2 separate regions of the Homo sapiens genome follow, and region 1 is linked to region 2. The links come from fine-mapping of genetic effects on gene expression. A gene starts in region 2. The other region holds a variant in brackets. All regions are shown on one strand. Distances are between the middles of the regions.

What was found. PIP is the estimated chance that this variant, and not a neighbour inherited with it, causes the effect.
Region 1: its variant is fine-mapped to the expression of CORO6 in whole blood (TOPMed, PIP above 0.99).

Annotation. Positions count from the first base shown.
Region 1 is chr17:29,680,120-29,692,109 of GRCh38, forward strand. It overlaps SSH2 (slingshot protein phosphatase 2), which reads right to left. Exons shown (of 16, transcript NM_001282129.2): 6 at 4,444-4,565. Among named protein-coding and RNA genes, the nearest start is that of SSH2-AS1, 47 kb to the left of the region's middle. The variant TGAG/T (reference allele first, on the strand shown) is at 5,618.
Region 2 is chr17:29,617,742-29,629,731 of GRCh38, forward strand. It overlaps CORO6 (coronin 6), which reads right to left and starts at 5,171. Exons shown (of 11, transcript NM_032854.4): 1 at 4,947-5,171; 2 at 3,483-3,743; 3 at 1,910-2,032; 4 at 1,319-1,448; 5 at 1,049-1,230. The coding sequence starts at 3,680. SSH2 (slingshot protein phosphatase 2) reads right to left here. Exons shown (of 16, transcript NM_001282129.2): 16 at 8,197-11,990. RefSeq lists silencers at 1,523-1,592, 4,835-4,984 and enhancers at 2,570-2,864, 5,772-6,971.

The sequences.
Region 1 (11,990 bases), 62 kb after region 2:
AAGTGATTGGGGGAAGGGGAAACCATTATGCTTTAAAAACAACATAATGAATACCAAACTTTAACTGTTAGTCACTGCAGGGTTAAAGGAGGCTAGCCCTTAGTTGGGCTTTCCACTACACTTGCTGGCCTGTGCTGCTTAACACCTTAAGAGTGATTCCAGGCCAGGCACGGTGACTCATGCCTGTAATCCCAGCACTTTGGGAGGCCGAGGTCAGGAGTTCAAGACCAGCCTGGCCAACATGGCGAAACTCCATCTCTACACTAAAAATACAAAAATTAGCTGGGTGCAGGGGCAGACAGACACCTGTAATCCCAGCTACTCGGGAGGCTGAGGCAGGAGAATCACTTGAACCTGGGAGGTGGAAGTTGCAGTGAGCTGAGATTTGCGCCATTGCACTCCAGCCTGGGAGACACAGCAAGACTCCCTCTCAAAAAAAAAAAAAAAAAAAAAAAAAAAAAGAGTGATTCCAGAGCTCAGGAGATTCAAATCAAGACTGAAACAGCTTATCCACATTAGAACCTGGACCTGAACAACAGAAACACAGCTACCATGCCAGAGTCCAGGAGCAAGACAGCTCTACCACAAGTTTTGTTGAGTAGATGAGATGAGCGCACAAAAAAATTTGTTTTGAAAACGGCTTCCCAAGATGAAGTGGGGATAGTTTTACAGTAGCTTTTTGTTTTGTATTTAGTGAGTGCTTAGCCAGGTTCTTAGCAACAAGTATAATTTTGAGTATAAATATGGTGGGTTGGTAGCCCAATGACAAATCTAGAAATTAACTATATAAAAAGATACAGAAGCTGCAAAAGAGTGTGATCTATAAGCTTGTGACCAGATTTTGGTTAACCTTTGGACAAGTGACATTGATATACAGGAATCGACATTACATTTTTGGCTTGTATTCAGGCCAGAGTGCTTTTTTACATTAAGAAGTAGCTTTTTCAGCAGGGCGTGGTGCCTGTAATCCCAGCACTTTGGGAAGCAGAGGCGGGCGGATCACGAGGTCGAGATAGAGACCATCCTGGTCAACATGGTGAAACCCCGTCTACTAAAAATACAAAAATTAGCTGGGCATGGTGGTGTGCGCCTGTAGTCCCAGCTGCTTGGGAGGCTGAGGCAGGAGAATCGCTTGAACCCAGGAGACGGAGGTTGCAGTGAGCTGAGATTGCACCACTGTACTCCAGCCTGGCCACAGAGTGAGACTGTCTCAAAAAAAAAAAAAAAAAAAAAAAAAAAAAAAGTAGCTTTTTCACGCAACAGGAAGGAAAGGACTGAATAAGGCACGCTTGGTATTTTTATCCAGGTTACCTCAGTCTCTCAAGATTTTTCTCCATTTAAGTATAACTACTTATTTTAGTAAATATTCAATTCATTCAATAAAAATTTATTTAGTGCCTACTATGTACCAGACATTTCAAGGTGTTAGGGGTACAAAAAGAAATGGAAAAAAAAAACCCCAAAAAACCATGAAGCTCTATTATTTTATAACTTAAAATATGTTACACTTTAGAAACCAAGATTATGCTGCATATTTAAAAAATTATTAAAATATAACATAATACTCAAAGAACTTGTAAATGGGCTAAATGAATTGGCTGCAACGTATTATTAAGAACTATTTGTACTTGTCATAATCTGGGTTCCACTTTGGCTTAATACTATTTTGAAGCATTAACATTTACATTCTCAGATATGAAATGATACAAATTCAAATTCCTTCAACAACAACTGAGACAGAAATGATTTTAGATTACCTGAGCATCTGAGACTTCTTACTGTCCAAGGAACTCATTAAAGCAGAGGATGTATGGGAATTTCATAATAGCAAGTTTAGCAAACAGAATGAAAACTAGTTTCTAGCTTTTCATGTTTTAAGTTTGTCTTCTATAAACTATAATTTCCTTTGGCTAGTGACACTGGTCAGATATGATTCAGACAGGGCCATTGGCAAAAGATAGATGTAATTTACTGAGTATAAACTACTGGATACCTATATTAATATGCATTCTTTCTGGTAAAGTTTAGGACAAAGTGAAAGAGAAATGATTAGACATGTGCTTGCTCATATTCTGGGTCAGGAGAATCTGCAGTTATTGTCTTCTGTCTCTAGGGGAAGATTCAATTGAAGCTTCATGAGGTTCCTGTTCCTGTTTTATAGGGTTTTCAAGGGAGGGGGTCAGGGAGAACTGAACAAAGGAAATATGAGCTAGAACAGTGCTGTCCAACTGAACTTTCTGCAAGAATGGAAAATGTTCTATACATGTACTGTCTAATACGATAGCCACTAGCACATACGGTTACTGAATACTTGAAATGTGACTAGTTAGAACTGAGGAATTGAAATTTCATTTAATTTTAATCTATTTAAAAAGACACGTGCATGCTGTATGCAGTGGCTCATGCCTATAATCCCAGCACTCAGGAAGGCAGAGGCAGGAGCTCAGGAGTTGAGACCAGCCTGGGCAACACAGAGAGACTGTGTTCTTCACAAAAAGGAAAAAAGAAAAGAAGAGAAGAGAAAAGGAAGGAAGATGAAAGAAGGAAGGAAGGCAGGCAGGCAAGAAGGAAGGAAGGGGCACATATGGTTAGTGGCTACTATACTGGACAACACAGATCTAGAAAGATTAAAAACCTAAATTAGAGGTCCTAAAATCCTAATGAATGTAAACAAGGTAGGTGCTGTTATAGGAAAATGCTTACTGAAAGCTCTGTTGCTTAATCAGAAGTTAAAACCATGCAGGAGAAATCTTCCTAAATCTGGTTTACAAGCCTGTGTAAATTCAGAGCCTACAATTAAATGCTGTTAAGTGGTATACAAGCTAATAACTTTGGCTTTGGGAATTCCTGTGAACCCCCAAGTCATTTTCAGGTTGACTTCTATATAGGAATAAGGTAAACATTGGTTTGGGAAACTTTCTAGTGACAAAGTGATTTTTTCCCCTCAACATCAGGAAAATTAGAATCATTCCCAGGCTCCTCCTCTCTTTGTGGCTAAATTTCCCTAGGCCTGGGTCACACCCCTAGCTACCCCATAGTTCCATTCTAATCCTGAACCAGGAAGTCAATGCTTTGAGACATCTGGCAGGATTTCCTGAGGCTAATTATCCACAGCGTAAAGATCTGCTTAGCAGCCACATTCCAAAGTCTTCCGAAGGTTTCTCCAGAAAAAGTGGGAAAAATAAAAAAGGAAAGCAACAAACCTTAAGGACACACGAAAAGGCCAGGTGTTGTGTGTCATCTTTCATCATAGAATGTAAAGTACAGCTAAAGCCAAAGGTACATAAAAAGTTCTGCTTTGAGTTTAAGGAGCCATCCCGTACCACCCCATCCCCGCCCCGCCCACCATCCTTTTTAACTCAATAGAAGGAAAAAGGAGGCATAGCATTTGGTAAAAGCAAGGTTTAAACAAAACAGACTGTAGTTTAAGTGGGATCTCTTTGTATCTGGGACTACTGGTATACTACCACAAAGGGTAGGTGCCCTAGAATCACCAAAGTGAATCATTACTGACTACAATAGAGTAGGCCAGGTGCAAGGCTCATGCCTGTAATCCCAGCACTTTGGGAAGCCGAAGTGGGAGGATTGCTTAAGCCCAAGAATTCAAGACCAGCCTGGCCAACATAAGGAAATCTTCTCTCCAGAAAAATAAGGAAAAAAAAAAAAAAAAGACCAAATAGCTGGGTATGGTGGTGCATGCCTGTACTTCTAGCTACTTAGGAGGCTGAGGTGGAAGGATTCCTAGAGCCCAGGAGGAATTTGAGGCCGTAGTGAGCTGTGACTGCATCACGGCACTTCAGCCTGGGCAGCAGAGCGAGACGCTGTCTCAAAAAGAGAAATAAAAAGGCAGCTTTTTTTCCATGGAAATGTAACTTTGAAACCACTTGCTTTATATTGTGACTATCTAAAGATGAGATGAAGGTATGGAATAATGGTAAATTGGAAACACACGACCAAAGACATTCACTAAACATTCTTGTTTCTCAAGACTGTGGCTAAGATACTTATGTTCTTTAGTTTTATGTCTTGTACTTTAACAGCAGAACTGCACAAGATATTTTTGTGATAAAAGGCAACTGGGGCCAGGCACGGTGGCTCACGCCTGTAATCTCAGTACTTTGGGAGGCTGAGGTGGGTGGATCACTTGAGGTCAGGAGTTTGAAACTGGCCAATATGGCAAAACCCCATCTCTACTAAAAATACAAAAATTAGTTTGGCATAGTGGTGTACACCTGTAATTCCAGCTACTCAGGAGGCTGAGGCAGGAGAATCGCTTGAACCCGGGAGGCGGAGGTTGCAGTGAGCCGAGATTGAGCCACTGCACTCTAGTCTGGGCAACAGAGTGATGACACTCCGTCCCCATTAAAAAAAAAAAAAAAAAAAAGCAACTGGAACAGGTTACTTAAAAAGCAGTTTTCACATTTTGAAATGGTACCACCATACCTGTCATTAGAGGAGAAATCCATTCCTAGGACGATGCTTTCTTCAGTGTCTTGTCTACCATTAGTTGAAACCACTACCATATAGCGTGTTCGATTCTGGTAAGTACTTTCCAGTCTTACAGCCTGGAATTTAGCAGACAACAGAGAAATTATGAAATTTAGGACATTAATTTCAGATCATTTCAACCCTTTTTCATCAGCATCTTAAAGCATACTCACGAAGGCAGCAGAGCCAGTAGTTAGGAGACATAAATTAAAATCTCAGCTCGTACACTAGCTATAAAAACTTTGGTAAGTTACTAAATTAATTGGAGGGAGATATAATAATACCTAACTGTCAGGTTGTTTTAAGAATCTTATAAAATAATACAGTAAAGCACAGTGCTTGGCACACAGTAAATGCTCAATAAGATGTTTGTTATTAGTGCAATTTATACTAATTACCACAGTGTGTAATAAAGACTGAAGAGGGAAATGTGAGGTATATGAATGTGAGCATTGGTCTCAGAGATGCAATTCCCACAAACAATTATAATATGGAGCAAACTATTAGCATCATCTAAGGGGAGTACTGACTTTGCTATACTGAATTCCTGCATGTTAATGCACTATAAGATTTTCTTCAGTTTCGATGATAATGAAAGGAGATTGCATTTTTAGAAACTTCTCATTTTTTGTCAAAAGTTTTAATTTATTCTTAATTAAATTTTAAAAGGACCCTCAGAAAATCTGAATATGGACAGGGTCTTAGATGAAATTAAGGATTTACTGTTAATGTAATAACAGCATTGTGGTTACTGTGACTTTTTCTTAAGTACCTGGAGTGAAATGACATGGTTTCTGAGTTTTACTTTAAAATGTTCCAACAAAAAAATTTAACAGGGAGTGGGGACAGATGAAAGAAATCAGACAAAAGGTTGATGGTTATTAAAGCTGAGTAATGGCCAGGCACGGTGGCTCATGCCTGTAATCCCAGCACTTTGGGAGGCCAAGGTAGGCAGATCACCAGAGGTCAGGAGTTCAAGACCAGCCTGGCCAACATGGTGAAACACTGTTTCTACCAAAAATACAAAAAAAATTAGCTGGGCGTGGTGGCGCACGCCTGTAATCCCAGCTACTTAGGAGGCTGAGGCAGGAGGATCACTGGAACCCAGGAGGCGGAGGTTGCAGTGAGC[TGAG/T]ATCACCCCACTGCCCTCCAGCCTGGGTGACAGAGTGAGACTCTGGTTCAAAAAAAAAAAAAGCTCAGTAATGAGTTTGTGAGGATGTACTTTCTTTCTTTCTTTTCTTTTTCTTTTTTTTTTTTTGAGACAGAGTTTCGCTCTTGTTGCTCAGGCTGGAGTGCAATGGTGTGATCTCGGCTCACCGCAACCTCTGCCTCCCGAGTTCAAGCGATTCTCCTGCCTCAGCCTCCCGAGCAGCTGGGATTATAGGCATGCGCCACCACATCCAGCTAGTTTTGTATTTTTATTAGAGACGGGGTTTCTCCATGTTGGTCAGGCTGGTCTCAAACTCCCAAGCTCAGGTGGTCTGCCCACCTCGGCCTCACAAGATGCTGGGGTTTACAGGCGTGAGCCACCGCGCCCAGCCTTGATAAGTTCAAAAAGGTATCTTATAAGCCTTAAAAATAAAACAACTACAGGCAACACATTCAAATATTTATTACACATATATTATATATACAATAACAATGCCAAGTGCTGAGGATTCAGTGGTAGAAGAGAGAGACATGATCTATGCCCTCATCGAGTTATATAGTCTAGGCTACTCTTCTTTCATTTGTTAATAATAGTTTTAAAATGACAGTTTTTTTTTTTTTAAGAGACGGAGTCTTGCTCTGCCTCTCAGGCTGGAGTGCAGTGGTGTGATCTCGGCTCACTGCAACCTCCACCTCCCAGGTTCAAGCAATTTTCCTGCCTCAGCCTCCTGGGTAGCTGGGACTACAGGCACATGCTGCCACGCCCGGCTAATTTTTTTTTTTTTTGTATTTTAGTACAGATGGGGTTTCACCATGTTGCCCAGGCTGGTCTCGAACTCTGAACTCAGGCAATCCACCTGTCTTGGCCTCCCAAAGTGCTAGGATTACATGCACGGGCCACTGCACCCAGCCTTTTCTTTTTGTTTTTTTGAGACAGAGTCTCCCTCTGTCACCCAGGCTGGAGTGCAATGGCGTGATCTCGGCTCACTGCAACCTCCGCTTCTTGGGTTCAAGCGATTCTCCTGCCTCAGCCTCCCAAGTAACTGGGATTACAGGCACATGCCACCATGCCTGGCTAATTTTTGTATTTTTATAGAGACAGGGTTTCACCATGTTGGCCAGATGGCCAGGCTGGTCTCGAACTCCTGCCTCAGGTGATCCACCCACCTCAGCCTCCCAAAGTGGTGGGATTACAGGCGTGAGCCACCCACCTGGCAAAATGACAGATCTTTGAAGCCAGAAAAATGTGCTCTGGAGGCAAATTCTTCTGTATAAAATAACCCCTATTCCTTAGAGAAACAGAATTCTAATCCATCAACTGGCTCATTATATTTGTCAGAAATTTCTATTTGGAACTTTTTTTTCAGTGCTGCTGTTCTTGGAGTCTCCCTCCTGTTAACTCTGTCACCATTCCAAAATGGCCAGGCCAAGGGAAAAAGAGGCATAGTTACACGGCTCAAATGACCCATTTAGCAAGGCAGAGGTGAGACTCCCATGGCTATCTTTTTGTCTCTATTCTGATACTCCTAGGAAAAGCTAGGGAAGCACAAACAGCAGAAGTGGCTACATTAAATCTTGTTTCTAATAAGAACGGATATAACAAGAATGTAATGCTTACCATTCTGATGCCAAATGCATAAGATAGAGAGCTGTACTTTTGACTTCATGTTCCATGAAGTAATTGAGCATTTAAAACCAAATTCACTTATGAGAAGCTAAGCGGAACTAACATTTAAATGGACTAAGATCTAGAAGGCTGGGATCAAGGGTGGGATATTATACACACAGAAAAATGAATAAATAGTAAATGTACATGTGGCAGACCGGGAGGCAGTACTGACTCCTTCTCTGATTGTAGAAACACTCTACAACATGTTAATTAATCACAAATCCTGGTGCAGGTAAACTGGATTTTCTTATAAACAAGATCTCGCATATTATTACATATTTATATTTGGGCCTCCCTTGGCCCAAGTTTCCTGAATGTGTTAGAGGCTCTTTTATTCTCTGTCAACGCTCCAAGAATTTCTGGCAAGGCTCAAATACAAATGGCCTGGGAACAAATGAACTTTGTTTCTGACAATTTATTTACAGCTCCTACACCAACCAGTGGCAACTGATTGGCTAAGTCAAAGCTGATAAAAGGAAAAATATAACTTTCATAAGTATTATCTATAATGCAAGTTACCAGCCAAGTTAGAAGTGGGCTGCAAGAGTTTCTTTGTAAGTGATATTCATTGCAAACATTAGTGTTTTTTTTTTTTTATTTTTCGAGATGGAGTCTCACTCTATCGCCCAGGCTGGAGTGCAGTGGTGTGATCTTGGCTCACTGCAACCCCCGCCCCCCGGGTTCAAGCGGTTCTCCTGCCTCAGCCTCCCAAGTAAACGGGATTACGGGCACCTGCCACTGCGCCTGGCTCATTTTTGTGTTTTTAGTAGAGATGGGGTTTCACCATGTTGGCCAGGATGCTCTCGATCTCTTGACCTTGTGATCCACCCGCCTCGGCCTCCCAAAGTGCTGGGATTACAGGTGCGAGCCACTACGCCCGGCCAGATGTCTCTTTAAAGTTTATTTTATAATATCAAAAGCATTTCAAATGTTTGGCTCTCCCTTGCTTACTCAAACTGTAACAGAAGTTCCCAAACCTAATGAGAAGGGCCCCAGACATTTAATACTGACTTAGGCTTGAATAACATGCATATCTCAGATCCATTCAATTTTAAGCTTCTTTTTTGTTTTTGTGTTTCACTCTGTTACCCAGGCTGGAATGCAGTGGTGTGATCTGCAACCTCTGCCTCCCGGGGTCCAGCAATCTTCCCACCTCAGCCTCCCAAAGAGCTGGGACCACAAGTGCCCGCCACCATGCTTGGCTAATTTTTTGTATCTTTGGTAGAGATGGGGTTTCACCATGTTGTCCAGACTGGTCAATTTTAAGCTTCTTAAATGGAAGAATAGCACTTAAGAGTTCCTGGAATTTGATCACAGGCCTCTAGACAGTACCTACAGTATTGATTCAACACCTATATCCTAATTAGAAGGATGAGATAAAAATCTTTGAAGAAAAAATTCTGAAATGTGAGGGGATAAACCCAAGACTTTAATTAAAGTTCCTTTTAGGCCGGGCGCAGTGGCTCACGTCTGTAATCCCAAAACTTTGGGAGGCTGAGGCAGGTGGATCGCTTGAGGTCAGGAGTTCGAGATCAGCTGGCCAACAGGGCAAAATCCTCTCTCTACTAAAAATACAAAAAAAATTAGCTGGGTGTGGTGGCATGTGTCTATAATCCCAGCTACTCAGGAGGCTGAGGCAGGAGAATTGCTGGAACCCAGGAGGAGGAGGTTGCAGTAGGTTGAGATCACGCCACTCCACTCCAGCCTGGGCGACAGGGCAAGTGAGACTCTCAAAAAAAAAAAAAAGTTCCTTTTAAGCTTCAAGATTCTAGGTTAAGGAATTAAAAATCTATGTGCCGCAGCCATAAGGAAAAGTCTAACGCCCATCCTGGTTTAAGGTTTATTTCGTATTCCTCTGTTGGAGATAAGATTAAGCAAAATCTAATAATTTATTAACACAATCAAATAAATTTAAAATGGCAATTTTGTACATAATATCCTAATTTTGAAAAGGACAGCATTTCCAATGTTTCTTCAGTCTCCAGAACCTATATTGAAATCAATGACTGGAATAAGACAATAATTGAGATGCATTTGATTTATCAACTAAAGTTCTCCTTGAAAAGGACACTACTGAAGTCCATTTTAATTGTCTAAACAAAACAATTATTCTGGACTTTAAAACTTGGCAGCAATAGTAACTAAGATTATATTTCCAAGAAACTACATTTACTGCCTAAATGTGGAATCCTATTACAAGTTACAGGTGAATTGGATCCAGCAATCTTAGGACTGAAGTAGGTCTGAGAAGTCATCCCCTGCCTCTTTATTCCTGAAGAACCCAATCTGTTTTCAAAGCTCATCTATTAAAGAATAATGCTATTCCCTCGGCATCCAATTTAAATGTTTAACCTAATTACAAGCAGTTTACAAACTGGGCATAGTGGCATGCCAGCTACTCGGGAGGCTGCAGTGGGAGTATTACTAAAAATACAAAAATTAGCAGGGCATCATGGCATGTACCTGTAATCCCAGCTACTCAGGAGGCTGAGTCGTGAGAATCAGTTGAACCCAGGAGGCAGAGGCTGCAATAAGCCGAGAACACACCACTGCATTCCAGCCTGGGTGACAAAGCGAGATCCATCTCAAAAAAAAAAAAAAAAAAAAAAAAGAGCTTCTCTCCTCAGCATCATCTAACATCAGGAAATACTCCTCCTTAAGCTTAAACTGTAACTTTGCCTTTAATTTCTTTTCACCACTGGGTGCAGTGGCTCACGCCTATAATCCCAGCACTTTGGGAAGCCAAGGCGGGCAGATCACCTGAGGTCGGGAGTTCAAGACCAGCCAGACCAATATGGAGAAACCCGGTCTCTCCTAAAAATACAAAAAATTAGCCAGGCGTGGTGGCGCATGCCGGTAATCCCAGCTACTCAGGAGGCTGAGGCAGGAGAATCGCTTGAACCTGGGAGGCGGAGGTTGTGGTGAGCCAAGATTGCGCCATTGTACTCCAGCCTGGGCAAAAGAGTGAAACTCTGTCTCAAAAAAAAAAAAAAAAAGACTTAATTTCTTTACACCAAGAGTCTTACATGCATGCCCCTGTGTGCATGATGTAAGACTCTTGGTGAAAAGAAATTAATTACCCCCAGTAAACTACATTATAAAGGCCCAATGTCTAAGACAGGCAGTTCACCCAATCCATCAGAGAGAAAGGTTCCAAAAGTAGGTAAATATTAAATGCTAGTCAAAAGAATGAAGCAAAATCAATAGCCAAAATTAAAACAGGCTTCACTTGTGACACTAGTAAACTAAAGAACACTGTCTTCAAAAGAAAAAGATTAGAGCTTCAGGAAGTCTCTGAATTTTTTTTTAAATCAGTCTGTATGAAATTCTTAAATATGAATTATATTCTGTGTAGCCATTAAAAACCATGATTTATTTATTGACATGGAAAGATATCCATGATAAACTATGAAGAAAGTAGGTTACAAAAAGGTATTTCTATTTTTATCACATTTTCGTAGAAACAAAACAATGCTCTTCCTCTCACTCTTTACACACACACACACACAGACACACACACACACATAGACACACACACTCTCTCTCTCATATATACATATTTAAAAAAAGAGTGGAAGGATACTTATCCAAATTGCTGAGAACGATTTTCTCAGAATGTAGAATACAGAGTGATTTTTATTTTATTTATACCTTTTTGCATTGTTTGGGAGAAAAAAAAACCCCACATAATACATTTATAGCTAGAAAAAATGAACCAATTTCCATTTTAGAAAGCAACATATGATGAAAACCAAAATCATAAAACTTCTCATTTTCTTGAATTCTCCTGCAAAATACTCAAAAAAGACCTCTTTGTACCTTATCAACACTTCAGCTTTAGTTAAGAACATCAATTGAAATTACTTCAAATGTCCTGAAAATTCTTAATTTCTCAGATTAATGTTTTAATTAAATGGTTGATCTTTGGTAACGTGCAAGAGTACTATAAAACCACTTTCTTTATTTTACTAGCTACAGTTTTTCTAAGTACTACAGTTAATGCTTGATGCCTGTATTTGGAACACAGAGCTTCCCTGGAGGAAAAGATTGGCTTTGTCCTATTTTCTCTCTTTTTTTTTTTTTGAGACAGAGTCTCGCTCTGTTGCCCAGGCTGGAGTGCAGTGGCACGATCTCGGCTCACTGAAAGCTCTGCCTCCCGGGTTCACACCATTCTCCTGCCTCAGCCTCCTGAGTAGCTGGGACTACAGGCACCTGCCACCACGCCCGGCTAATTTTTTGTATTTTTAGTAGAGACGGGGTTTCGCCGTGTTAGCCAGGATGGTCTCGATCTCCTGAACTCGTGATCCACCCGCCTCGGCCTCCCAAAGTGCTGGGATTATAGGCGTGAGCCACTGTGCCCGGCTTATTTTCAATGCTAAAGCAAAATGTGTGGTTTGGTTGGGTTATTTAAAAAATGAAGTCAAGACTTTCAGCCGGGCGCGGTGGCTCATGCCTGTAATCCCAGCACTTTGGGAGGCCGAGATGGGCAGATCACTTGAGGTCAGGAGTTCAAGACCAGCCTGGCCAACATGGTGAAAGCCTGTCTCTACTACAAATACAAAAAATTAGCCGGGTATGGTGGCATGGGCCTGTAATCCCAGCTAGTCGGGGGGCTGAGACAGGAGAATCACTTGAACTCGGGAGGCAGAGGTTGCAATGGGCCAAGATCGAGCCACTGCACTCC
Region 2 (11,990 bases):
ACAAATGGGGCCTAAGCACTCAGCTTCCTGCGGGGCCACGTCTGGCCCCTGACCTGGAGAGCATCCGGGCCTGGAGAGAGCAGGAGGCACGCGGCTCTCAGCCGATCCCGAACCCTTAAGCGCGCTCAAAGGCCGATCCCTAGAGCAGGGGTGTCTGCTGGCTCCCCGGAGTCGCAGCGAGGCTTTTCCCGAATGGGAGCTCCCCGCTCCGCTCTGGCCTCTTGGGCGCCAGCCACAGCCCGGGAAGGCGCTCCCGGCAGACCCAGAGAAGGAGCGAGCTAGCGCGCCCGGCGCGGCCTGGCCTACCGGGTCCCAGAGCGCGAGTTGCCGCTCACTCATCCTGCTGAAGCCGGTGCTGAGCAGCTTCCCGTCTGCGGTGAAGACAGCCCGCAGCGGGCGGGCGCCCTCGTGAGGCCGGGCTTGCTCCTGCTCGCCGGGTTAGTGGGTTAGAGCGCCCCGGCGCCAGCCCCGACCGCTCTCGGCGCGCTTGCTCCACGCAGACATGCACGCGGCCCACGCACCCGCACCCCAGGTTAGACTTGAGGCTGGCGAGGCCAGGGCCGCCGCCCTCCCAGGGCATCCGGCTGGGATAAGCAACGCGCGAGGGTTGCCCCATCCCCCGCCCAGCGGGTCCACAAGGAGAAAGGGCCAGCCCTCGAGCCAGTGTCAGGCCCCAGACCCTGGAAGATGCGTCTGGGTGCCGGCTGAGAGGAGAGGGGTCCAGGAGCTCAGGTTTCATGCAGGTTCTGGTGGGAGGATGGAGTTTCCAGCTTCTCCCCTCCTCAATCCCAAAGCGAGGAGCCCTTCTCTGAGCTTCTGAGATGCAAGGGAGGGGAGGGAACAGGAGCCGGGCAGAGAATTGCAGGCTGGGGGCTTACTTAGGGCAGAGACCTGTGGTTGCAGAGACGGGGGAAGGGGGCTAGTCTCTGGAGCAGGGATGCGACAGGTGAAAGCCGGGACCAGGGGCTCTGATAATGGTGGGTACAAGGGTGCTGACAGCTGGCCACTGGTCAAGGGGTTCTGGGGAGTGGCCAGGCCAGGCACTCACCGCCACCACTTGGCCTTTTCTGGGGTCAATGATGCGCAAGGTCTTGTCCTTGCAGGTGGTGGCTAGCAGGCTACCGTTGCTGTTCCAGCACACACTGTGGATGACGTCTGGGTGCATATCATCCAGGCTCAGCAGCACCTCCCCGGTGCCCACATTCCAGATGATGATCACATTGTCACCACCTGCCCAGAGTGGCCAGGCATGGTCACCTGGGTCCCACCTTTGCCACCACCCACCCATCTATGGGGGACCCCTCCTTAGCCCCCAGACCTGCACTGAGCAGGACATTCCTGGCAGTAGGGTGCCAGGAGAGGATGCCCACACGCTTGGAGTGGCCCTCAAGTGTGATGATAGGTTCCGTAATGTTGCGCATGGGGGTATAGTCTGGAATCTGCCACACCTGGGTAGGAAGAAAAGGTATATGGTGGGTGGAATGAGGAGCCACCCTGTCCCTCCACTCCTTCCCTACCTTTTTTTTTAACCCTACTGGCTCTCTTGAGTGGTAAGGGTCAAATACAGGGCAAGATGTGGTGGTGCATGCCTAGAACAGAAGCAGCTGGGAGCCAGGAGGGGGCACTGCCAGCTCTCCAGAGACCTCCCATTCACTCCAGCAGGGAGACTTCAGAGCACTGCCCTGCTGCTCTCCAGGCACCAAGTTGGCCATGGCTATAATTAGTCCTAAGCAGTGCATCCTGGGAGGGGGTGGGCATGTAGCTAAAAATAGTCCAGGAGCTGGGCAGGGCAGGGCCCTGGGACCCAGCACCTCCCTTATTACCACCCTTAGCACCTTCCCCAGCACAGGTGAGGCAGCCTTCCCTGCTCCCCTGCTCAACTGCCCAGCAGTAGCCACCTGGCTCCTACCATGATGGTGGTGTCGTCTGAGGCACTGGCGATAACGTTGTCATTGTGTGGACACCAGTCAATATCCAGCACAGGGGCAGTGTGCCCAGTGACCAGTGGGTAGTTCTTATCCACTCGCCCTGTCTGAGGGGTTGGAGAAGAAGATGTGGGGCTACTCTCCTGTGTGTTTTTTGGGGAGTGGGTAGCAGATCTGCTTACATCTCGATTCCTTATTACCTATTTTCTCTTTGCAGATCCCTCTCTGCACTTCTAACCCCATCCAGTCCACTTCCTGCACTTTACTGAAGGCAGAGTTGAAATAATTTAATATTAGGGACTGTGACACAGAGAGGTAAGATGGCCTCATCAAGGACACACAACAAGATACTTGTAGAGCTGAGATTTGAACTTTCCAGCCCAGTGCTCTTCCAAAGACACCTACTTGGAGGAGGCTGTTCTTCAGCCTGTTCTCCTATTGAAGTGTCTGTGGGAATCTCCTGGTGGAAGAGGTCAAGGTGAGATAATAGTGTAGTGCTGGACAGCCCTTTCCTGGCCTCCCTTGGCAGATCTCTTCCTTGTGAACCACTTTTACCTTGGAACCACAAGCAGCAAGCAGTCCTGGTGCCTACTATCCCCAAATGGGAGCTGGGGGCCCATCTATTTTTTGGTCTTCACAGGCTGCTTGTGGGGGTTCTGAGACCTCTGCAGGGGCAGACACTGGTCCAGACCAGGCAGCGGGGGAGAGGGTGGCTATGTGGTACTGAAAGAGCAGACATATTGGGGGAGGAGGCAGCTCCGGCTGAAATTTGAGCCCTGGGGCTGTGTCCCAGGATGATGTCTGCATTGTCTGGGGTGAGTCACTGGCTTTTTCAGGCCTCTTCCTGACCCCGCCACCTGTGGAGCCTACCCTAACAAGGTGTAGGGGCCAGAATCCAGGTCAAGGTCATACCTTGGGGGTTGGGGGAGAGTCATCCTTGGGATGTGGATGGTCAAGGGGCTTAAGGTTATGAAGCTAACGTGGTAGTCATTGCCTGGTCCCCATCCTGAGGGTAGGGAGGGCTCTGGCTTTATGTGTCATGTCCCCCTTCCTTTCCGTTCCCTTTCTTTCTACTTCACTGCAAGTGTCCTTGGAGGTAACCAGGGACTCTTTGGATAGAGCCTGACCCTGTCCTCAGTTTGCTGCTCTGGGATGTGACTTAATCAAATGGTCATCTTGGGCTAGGGAGGAGGTTCTCCACACCCAAAACATGAGGGGATGCGGCATTAGGAGAGGCAGTGATGGAATCTGGCCAGGCTTGGCTGTGCTGTGTCCCAACCATCTCCATCACCCGGCTCCCCTCCTGGTCCCTGCTGGGAATGGGGTGGTGCATGGAGAGGTGGGAGGGCTAGGGAGTGGGAGTAAGCCACCCTGATGTTAGGGTGGGGTGGGGTGGCCTCCCCTCTGGTCCTTGAGGGCTTGGGGAATAGGGAGGAGCCAATCCACACAGATGCTTCTCCTGACTATGGAATGGAACTAGGTGAGAACAAAGGCTCAGGAGTTCCCAGGGGCCCCAGCTAGTGTCCTCCCACTTGCTTCCTTTCCCTGATCCCTCACCTTGGCCAGAGGCAGGACGATGAAGGCACCCCCGCCTCCAGCCTCCACAATAATGGCCAGGAATTTGGGGTTGACGGCACAGAAGGAGCTGTCCCATGTGACCTTGGACACACGGATGTCCTCGTAGGCCTGGTCGGCCTTTGCTGCCTGCCCAAACACATGGCGGAACTTGCTTTGCCGAACCACACGTCTGCTCATAGCTGCAGGCAGAGAGGTAGGATCTCAGTGCCCAGAAATGCCTTTGGTCCTTAGTCCTGTGAGCTGCGGGAGGGAGGAGGAGTGGAGGGGTGGCTGATGAGAAGGGTTATGTGGTCAGGAGTCAGGTATAAATCCATATAGTGTCTGGTCCTAGAAGCAGGGAGCTTTCTTCAAGGTGGTCAAAGTATGGGAAAGTTATTTTGCTGTGTAAAATGCTGTTTAATGTAAGTGGCTAGGATTTGGGGCCTGAATTCTCCACAGAGACCCAGGCTGAGGGGATTGTGGAGCCTAACAGACTGAAAGCTTTCTGGACGTTGGAATGTTTTTGGGAGGAGCCTCAATGCCACACTGCCTGCACCCCCCGCCCCCACCACCGCCAGCCTTGATGAGCATCTCTTCACGGACGTGGTTGTAGCTCCCAGAGGCACCCTGTCCAGAAGCAGAAGACTTGACCATTGGATCTTGGCTTAAAGCCAGGTATGGGGCCAAGACTGCAGCCACCACAGGATACCGAACTCGCATCTCTGGAATAGTTCAGGCAGATGGGGTTTTGCCTTTTCCTAAAATTTTGCCAAGGGGGAAGTTCCTCCTGTCCACCAATCTGAGTCCTTTCTGCTACTGTTTTCATCCCATGCCTTGTGGGGGGACGGGTGGCAGCACAGAGTGAGGTGGATCCCTCTTCTCCCACTCCTTTCTGCACTGGCTTCTCCAGGAAGCCCTGATCATGGTCTTCTGGCTTTTGCCTACCATAGGCTTGTCCGGTTTCTCCTCTGGGTCCTCTGCCCTGGTTGGGCCTTCTTCCTAGTGAACTCTTCTAGGGGTGGGGTCTTCAACCCCATCCTCCACCCCTGCCCCCGCCACGGCCAAGCCAGATTTGCAGGGGTGGGGAGGGTGAGGTGCCTTTTCTCCAGCTAGGGTCTCCCTAGAGGACACACTGAGCACTCCCAAAGCCCCAGCCAGTGGCTCCTGCCCCACCCCAGCCCCAGCATCCGTGTGCCCTTCAAGGCGCGTCTGCGGCCCCGAGCCTGAGGCCCGGCCTCCCTGCACCCTTCTTCAGCCTGCTGCCCTGACACTGCGTTCTTGCGAGACGAGGTGTCTGCGCCCTCCGGGAGCGCTGGCTGCTGTCCGGCCAAATATAGACACCACGTCCTCCCCGCCCGAAACCGAATTTGGCGGCGCGGGGGGAGGAGGCGCAGACCTCTGCCCCTCAGGGACCCCGCCCGCTCCGCTGGCTGCGGTGACGGCCGGGTGTGGGGGGCTGGGTACCTGGTCCTGAGCGGGCTGCGGGGCGCTCACGCTGCGAATCCTCTGCGGAAGGGGCCCGAGTGCGTAGGGGGCCGAGGAAGGCTTCAGGGCGAAGGAGCCACCTCTCCGGGTGTCTGTAGTATCTGGGACCCGGGTGTCCAGCTCCGCACTCTGGCCGATCCTGCGGCTCTCTAGAGCCCGGCGCCGCTGCAGCCCCAGCTGCCGCTGCCATCAACCTAAGAGGGCGGGGCTAGCATAGGGGCGGGGCCAGAGCCCAAGTTGCCCCGCCCCCTCCAGCGGCGGGAAAGTCGAGCGACCCCGACTCCCCTCCCAGCTTCCGCCGGCCTCGGAGAACCATCGAAAATAAATGTGCAGCTGTGTGCTAGGTGCGCACGCTGCTTCCCTCCCTCCATGACTCCCGGGTAGGCTGGGGAGGCTCGGGTTCGCAGACCTAGAGCAGGACGCTTGGAGAGGGAACGGGCGAGGGGGCGTGCGCCCCTAGAGCGGGCAGCCGAGGGAGACCAGGTGCCTCCACCCGCATTCCAGCCTCAATCGCGCTCCCAATTTAGCTGTCCCGATCGGCCGGGACTGCGGGACTGCACTTCCAGGCCTCCCTGGGGGAAAGAGGCCCTAGAGAATGAGGACCCAGGCTGATCCTGATGTAGGGCAAGTGAGAGGGCACCCGACACAGGGTTGTGAATGTTAGTTATTGTTATGAATGGCAATAGCGATCATTTGAGAAACCTAAAATGCTGGCTGTGTGCTAGGCATTTCACCCCATTAGATGAGATTCCATGGAGCAGGGCAGGAAGCAGCTGAAAGAACAAGGGGAGGACCGAGTGTAAAGTGAACCCACCTTGACACTCCCTCCCCTCCCAGATGCAGGGGGAAGAGGCTAGCACCGGTCTCTAGTCACATTTTAGGGGTCAGAGAAGCCAACTCAGAGGCCAGACTCCTAATGTTTTCTGGGCCTTGTTTGAATTGGCGCCCGACTGTGTTCCAGGTAAGCTTCCCCCGTCTCCCCCAATATTCACAGAACTGAATGTTGACCGAGGTCAAGGAGATTAAAGATAACCTGATCAAAATACAGCCAGTGAAGACCAGCCAGTCCCGTAGCTCCAGTCTACCCAGTGTCTGCACATTGCCTGGATTTCTTCCCTTGGATCATAAGGGCATCTGGGGCCAGTTATTACTTCCCACCCTCCAGGGCACACCTGGGAGTGAGTGAATGGAACACAGCCTTCTGAAGGGCAGGAACCAGCACTGGGGAGGAAAGGGAGGGAAGGTGGTAGAAACCATGAAGGGCCCACGAGGCTCCTTTGTTTCTCAGGAAGAGTCCAGGTGGCTTGTAGGGACAGAATCAAATCAAGAGTCAGTGGCTTGTAGGGGAACAGAATAAAAAACTGTTACGAGTGCTCCAGAAATAACTCCTGGCGTAGGGGTGCTGGGGCAGGGTATGAGGGTATGTGAGTCATCTCTCTTTTACCTAAAGATTCCAGGCACATGATTAGGAGGAAAATACCTGAGTGACTCAGTTGCTCCTTTACAACAATAACCCATGCTTATGTGCTAGGCACTGGCACTAAGGGCTTTATACGTATTAATTTCATACTCTTAACAATCCTCTAGGCTGGTCGCGGGTGGCTAACGCCTGTAATCCCAGCACTTTGGGAGGCTGAGGCAGGTGGATCACCTGAGGTCAGGAGTTCGAGACCAGCCTGGCCAACATGGCAAAACCCCATCTCTACTAAAAATACAAAAATTTGCCAGGTGTGGTGATGCACACCTGTAATCCCAGCTACTCAGGAGGCTGAGACACGAGAATTGCTTGAACCTAGGAGGCAGAGGTTGCAGTGAGCTGAGATCATGCCACTGCCCTCCAGCCTGGGTGACAGAATGAGACTCTGTCTCAAATAAAACACACGCACAAAAAACCAAAAAACAATCCTCTAAGGTGGGTACTGTTGTTATCCCTATTTAACAGTTGAGGAAATGGAGCCACAAAGAGGTTAGGTGGCTTACCCATCACAACCTCAACTGGTAGTTGATGTAGCTATGATTCTTACCCACGTGGTCTGGCATCTGGTTCTTGCTTTTCAGCAGCATGCATTTCTGTCTCTCCCTGAAGGACAGTGCCACTTTATCTCACAAGTGCTGAGCTAAAACGTAACTGAGAGTTTATACTGTGTGGCACAGAGGAAAGGATGCCTGGAATGAATTAAAAAACTGGTTCCAGTCCTGGCTCAATCGCCATATTTTTACAGCTCTCTGAACAGGATTGGGTCAGATTCTTTCCAACTCTGCACCACTCCTTAGCAGAGTAGGGATTTTATGTGCTGCCTCCTCTGAAGTGGCATCTCCCCTACCCCCACCCTCCTTCTCTTTAAAGAGAACAGGAGACTCCCTTCTAGAGGGAAGCGCTTGGGACTAGGAAGCAGGAATCCTTCAATGCGTGCTCCCTTCAGTTCCATCATCTAGGAAGAGCAGTGCTTTCTGGGTACAGGGATTCAGATATTTGCTTGGGCCTGGCGTAGCTCAGCCCTGCCCTCTAGCCTTCTTCTGGCTGCCAAGGCCTGACAGAGCTGTGAGTGGGCAGAGTTAAGGCAGGAAGAACCAATCAGGGAGAGAAGCTACTTGGGCTTCGTGCCTCCCTTTTGAACTGTTAGCTCTGAACGGCAATCCATAGAAGACAGCCATGGATTTCATCTTTTAGGAAGCCATTTTCTGGATGAGGTAGCTCGCAACTTAGCCATGATTTGGTCCATCTGCTTTGGCTAGAAAACCAAGACTGAACTTATCTAGATTGGTCAGGGATCCCAGGGATCCTTAGAATATTTTGTGAAAGACCTTACCTTCACCGTCATGCACTCCAGCTAAAGACCAGCACTGTGCCCCTCCCACTTGATATGGATGATTCAGAATGAAGCAGGCTGACTTTAGTTCAAGGCAGTGATTTTTTTTTTTGAGGGGGGCGGGGACTTCAAATTTTGTTAGCAATTGGGAACTGGAAACTGAGCTCTCCCTAGATGGTAGTCCTGCCTTGTATGTGATGAATGGCACCACTAAATATCTCATGATGTTCATGTCCCATTTCTAGACATTTTTCAGTGGGCTGAGGTGTTTCATTTATTTCTGGGGACTCAGCTCTCTCTTCAGGGTGACATGACTGGGATCAATCATTGAAAACTACTGGTGTTCACTGTGTTTCCTCTTCTGACTCTCCCACCTTCTCCAGCACCTCCCTCCTTTGTTGCATCTGATGAAGTACACGTTTCATCTTCAAAATAAAAATTTATTCAATCTGTAACAAGAACATTGAATCTGCACATTTGCGCACAAGTTCACATTTAAAAACAGTGGAGCATATCTGTAATAAAAAAATCTATGATACAAGTGGAACATCCCAACCACCAGGAAGATTAAGGAAGGAGATGAGACCACTCTATATTCTGCTTCAAATGCCTCAAAAATGTCCCAGAGATTCCAGGGAGCACCTGCTTTAATAAAACATGAGCATAAAAGTTTGGGGTGGCTTGGGGCAAAGGTAACAGTCAGAGGAGAGTCTTCTGGACTTGTTTTCCATGTTAGAACAAGTCCTACAAAACAAAGCAGAAAGAAAAAAAAAAAAAAAGAAAAGTAAAGGCACCTTTAGATATGCCAAGCAAACCAAAATCCAACAGAACATAAAAATCAAACATTTCCCTGTGGGCTTACTGATTGGGAAGCACTTCAGGGCCAGTTACCCAGTTTTTAGTTTGGGTATTAGCTCTGCATGTGTACACAGGACGCTGCCACCAGCATTGCTTTGAGGACACAGACGGCAGCACCAGTCAAATGCCTCTTAAGGGATCTTCAAGGTGATTAAGGATGATTCCAGTTTAGAAATCCTATCCTAGACCTCTGGGGCACTGAGAAAATGAGGCTGGTTATCTTCTCATAGCAGGAGCCAGGGCCAGTCACCCTCCATTTCCAGGCTGGAAAAGTACAGAAGCACCTTGCAATAGCTCTTCATGACGTCAAGGGACCCCACACCCTGGGAGAAGGGTTAGGAGTGTGCAGCTTCCTGCTTTGGTGGCAGGCCTTTTCCTAATATGGGTGTCAGAGGAGTTGAGGCAGCAAATATGCTTGTGTCTAATACATGCCTTGATCTTTTAGTTTGGAAGGGAAAACAAAGTCCAAGATGCTTTTAAGTTGGATTGATGCTGAAACAGCTAAAATTTCATCTTATCCACCATCAAAAAGCAAAACAAAATTAAACAAAATGACACTAGCCATTCACCATTACAACCATCACTATAAGACACACCATCACTGAGGAAATGACAACTATTTCCATAGAGAGTGCTGGATGGGAGGGCAGGACACAGACGGAAGTCAGCTTCAGCGTATACCCACTTACTCACAAGGGCTGACCATGATGGCCCTGCTCTGCATGAGGACTCACAGGACAGCCAGGGCACTGATGCCTGCAGGACTGCATGGCCGACAAGATGATGCACATTTTAATATTCAAAATGTAAACAAAGTATCCACAAATAGTCCAAAAAAGCCAAAGAATGGCTTTACTTAAAAATTTTTAAATGCCCTTAAAAGTGACTTTTTGCATAATGCTTTCTTAAAAAAAGAACTCTCACAAAAACATTTTTACCAAACATGCCTAGATCACTTCAGAACTGAAATCCTCAGATGAAACAGGTGAACACTTCTGTGACCTGCTACATCTCAGAAGCTTCTCATAGGAAGCTTTGAGTTTACCCAACAGCATCTGTCTGGGGCCTGTGAGCAGAGTACCTCAGAGCCTGAGGCACTGAGATCTTCAGGCTGTCCTTGGAGCTCTGGGTAGTTTGCAAAATGAGAAAGAGGAACTATCAGTAGGGATAAAGACACAGAACAAGGAAATCCATAACCCTGTCTCAAGCCTCCTCAGAACCAGGAAAATACTAAAGATCCTGAAGAGACTAAGATGATAGGAATGATCCCAAACATTTAGAATCTGAAAGGCAACTAAAATGAGGAGAGATGAATATTACGGTACTATAGTACTACATGTCTACTACAGTATCCATTAGTCCTGGGTGTCTCCAAAAATCAAGAAAGGGTTGGGGTTTCCCTTTCTACTGACCAGGTTCAGCTCAAGTTCTGTATGCTCCTGGGGCTTTTACCCCATACACCAAAACATCAACTGTTTTTATATATGTACATATGTGTACACATGCACATACACTCCTCCAAAATAAGTGAGAGTCTATGGTGGTTTAAAAAGAGAGAGAGAGAGAGGAGAGAGAGAGAGGCAGGCAGGCACTGGGCAAGAGTCAAAGTTTTTCCTATTCATCTTTGCCAGTCTATCAAATCTGCTGCTTCAGGTCAGGTCATGAACAAAAGAAAAGGGAAAGATGCCACTGGAGATTATAAAAGTCTGAAGAGAAGACAGTCTGGAAAGTCCTTGACAGTTCACTGCGCACCTCCCCTGGACACTGCTCAGCTATGTAAATAACCCAGGAACACCCAATTCTGGGAGTCTGAAAAGGCTGGCACAAACTCCTTGGCATGGTTGAATGACAGATATTCTGTAGAAGATGTTTATTTAGGCAGGTAAATTAAATGATAAAAAAAGTAATTATAAAAAGGCAGAAAGACTTTCCTCTGCTCTTGAAAATTTTTTTTCCCCACAGTATTAGTGGGTTTTGTCCCATCTTTGTTGTTATTTAATGCAGTGAGTGAACATTAAACACAGTGGAGGGGAGAAGAGGGAACAGTCCAAAACTTTGGTCCTGCTTGTACCTCTTAGTGTGTGGGATGTCATCATCGTAAGGGGTTACCACAAGTGGATGCCACTCTCTTAACTTCCAGGCAAACCCTCTCCCCACCCTGCCATAAGTTCCTGCCCTTCCCCATCATATTGGTGGTGGAACTGCTTCAAGAAGGCAGGGTATTCTACATGGAAGAGCTCTGGAAATCCATAACCCTGTCTCAAGCCTCCTCACATTGGTTCATACCACCTAACAAAACACTTTACAACACACAAATATCCAGGAATCACAAAACTGAGTGGATGAGATACTTGAACATTCAAGGAGACTACTGAGCAACAGCACAGGGTACACATAATCACTGCACCATAGAGACGCTTTTAGCAAGTGGTTTCTGTCCAACCTGCTTCCTGGCAGGGATGTCAGACCCAGCCTTGGCTTCCACACAACTTCACAGCTCCTCTTAAGACCCAGTGGCCCCAGTCTACCTTTTCTGCATCTTTTGGGTCGCCCTGCCATCTGCCCCCACCAAACTCTGGCCTCTGACATCATGCTGACAGTCTGTGCATTTGTATTTTCCTCAGTGCTGTGATAAGCCAAAAACCTGTCTCCAGTCTATACTCAGTCAATCCTCAGTAACGTGGACATCAACGAAAGCAAATCTGCAAGCCTCTTCAGTTTCAATGAGATGCAGAGGTGTTTCATGCTAGACTAAATCTGTTTTCTGTAAGAAGCTACAAGAGGCTTGTTTATGACAGGCGCTGCTGCGTTAAGGATCTCCACAACAGTAGCAAAACGACAGCATCCTAAATGGAGTCACTGTGGGCACTTGCCCCTGGCTGAGGCCTCCCCTGTGGCCTTCAGCCTCTACTAGGAGCTTCCACTCTGGGCAACTCACATATACTTCCTGGCTGTGGTTGAGATACTGGCAAACAATGTTCTGGGATTTCAGTCTCACAGAGAAATCAGCTTTCAGTCACGCTGTGACCTAATGGGAGCCTTTAGGGGTGTCTCTGAGGAAAAAGTTACTAATGCATAATTTGGCAGGAGCTGGTGATTGGAAGTCTCCATTTAAACAACTACAGCCACCATCAACATATTGTACAGATTCCTATCAACACCCAACACTTTCATTTCTGGTGTCTGTGTTTTCCAGTTGCAACTCTACTCCTTCTTAAAAAGAATAAATCAAAATTACCCTACAACATGAACAAGACACTAAGACAGTGACAATATTATGTACATAAATACTGTGTACAAACTTTAGAGAAATGACAAACCTTCCAGGAAAAGGAAAAAAAAGTGTTAACAGTGA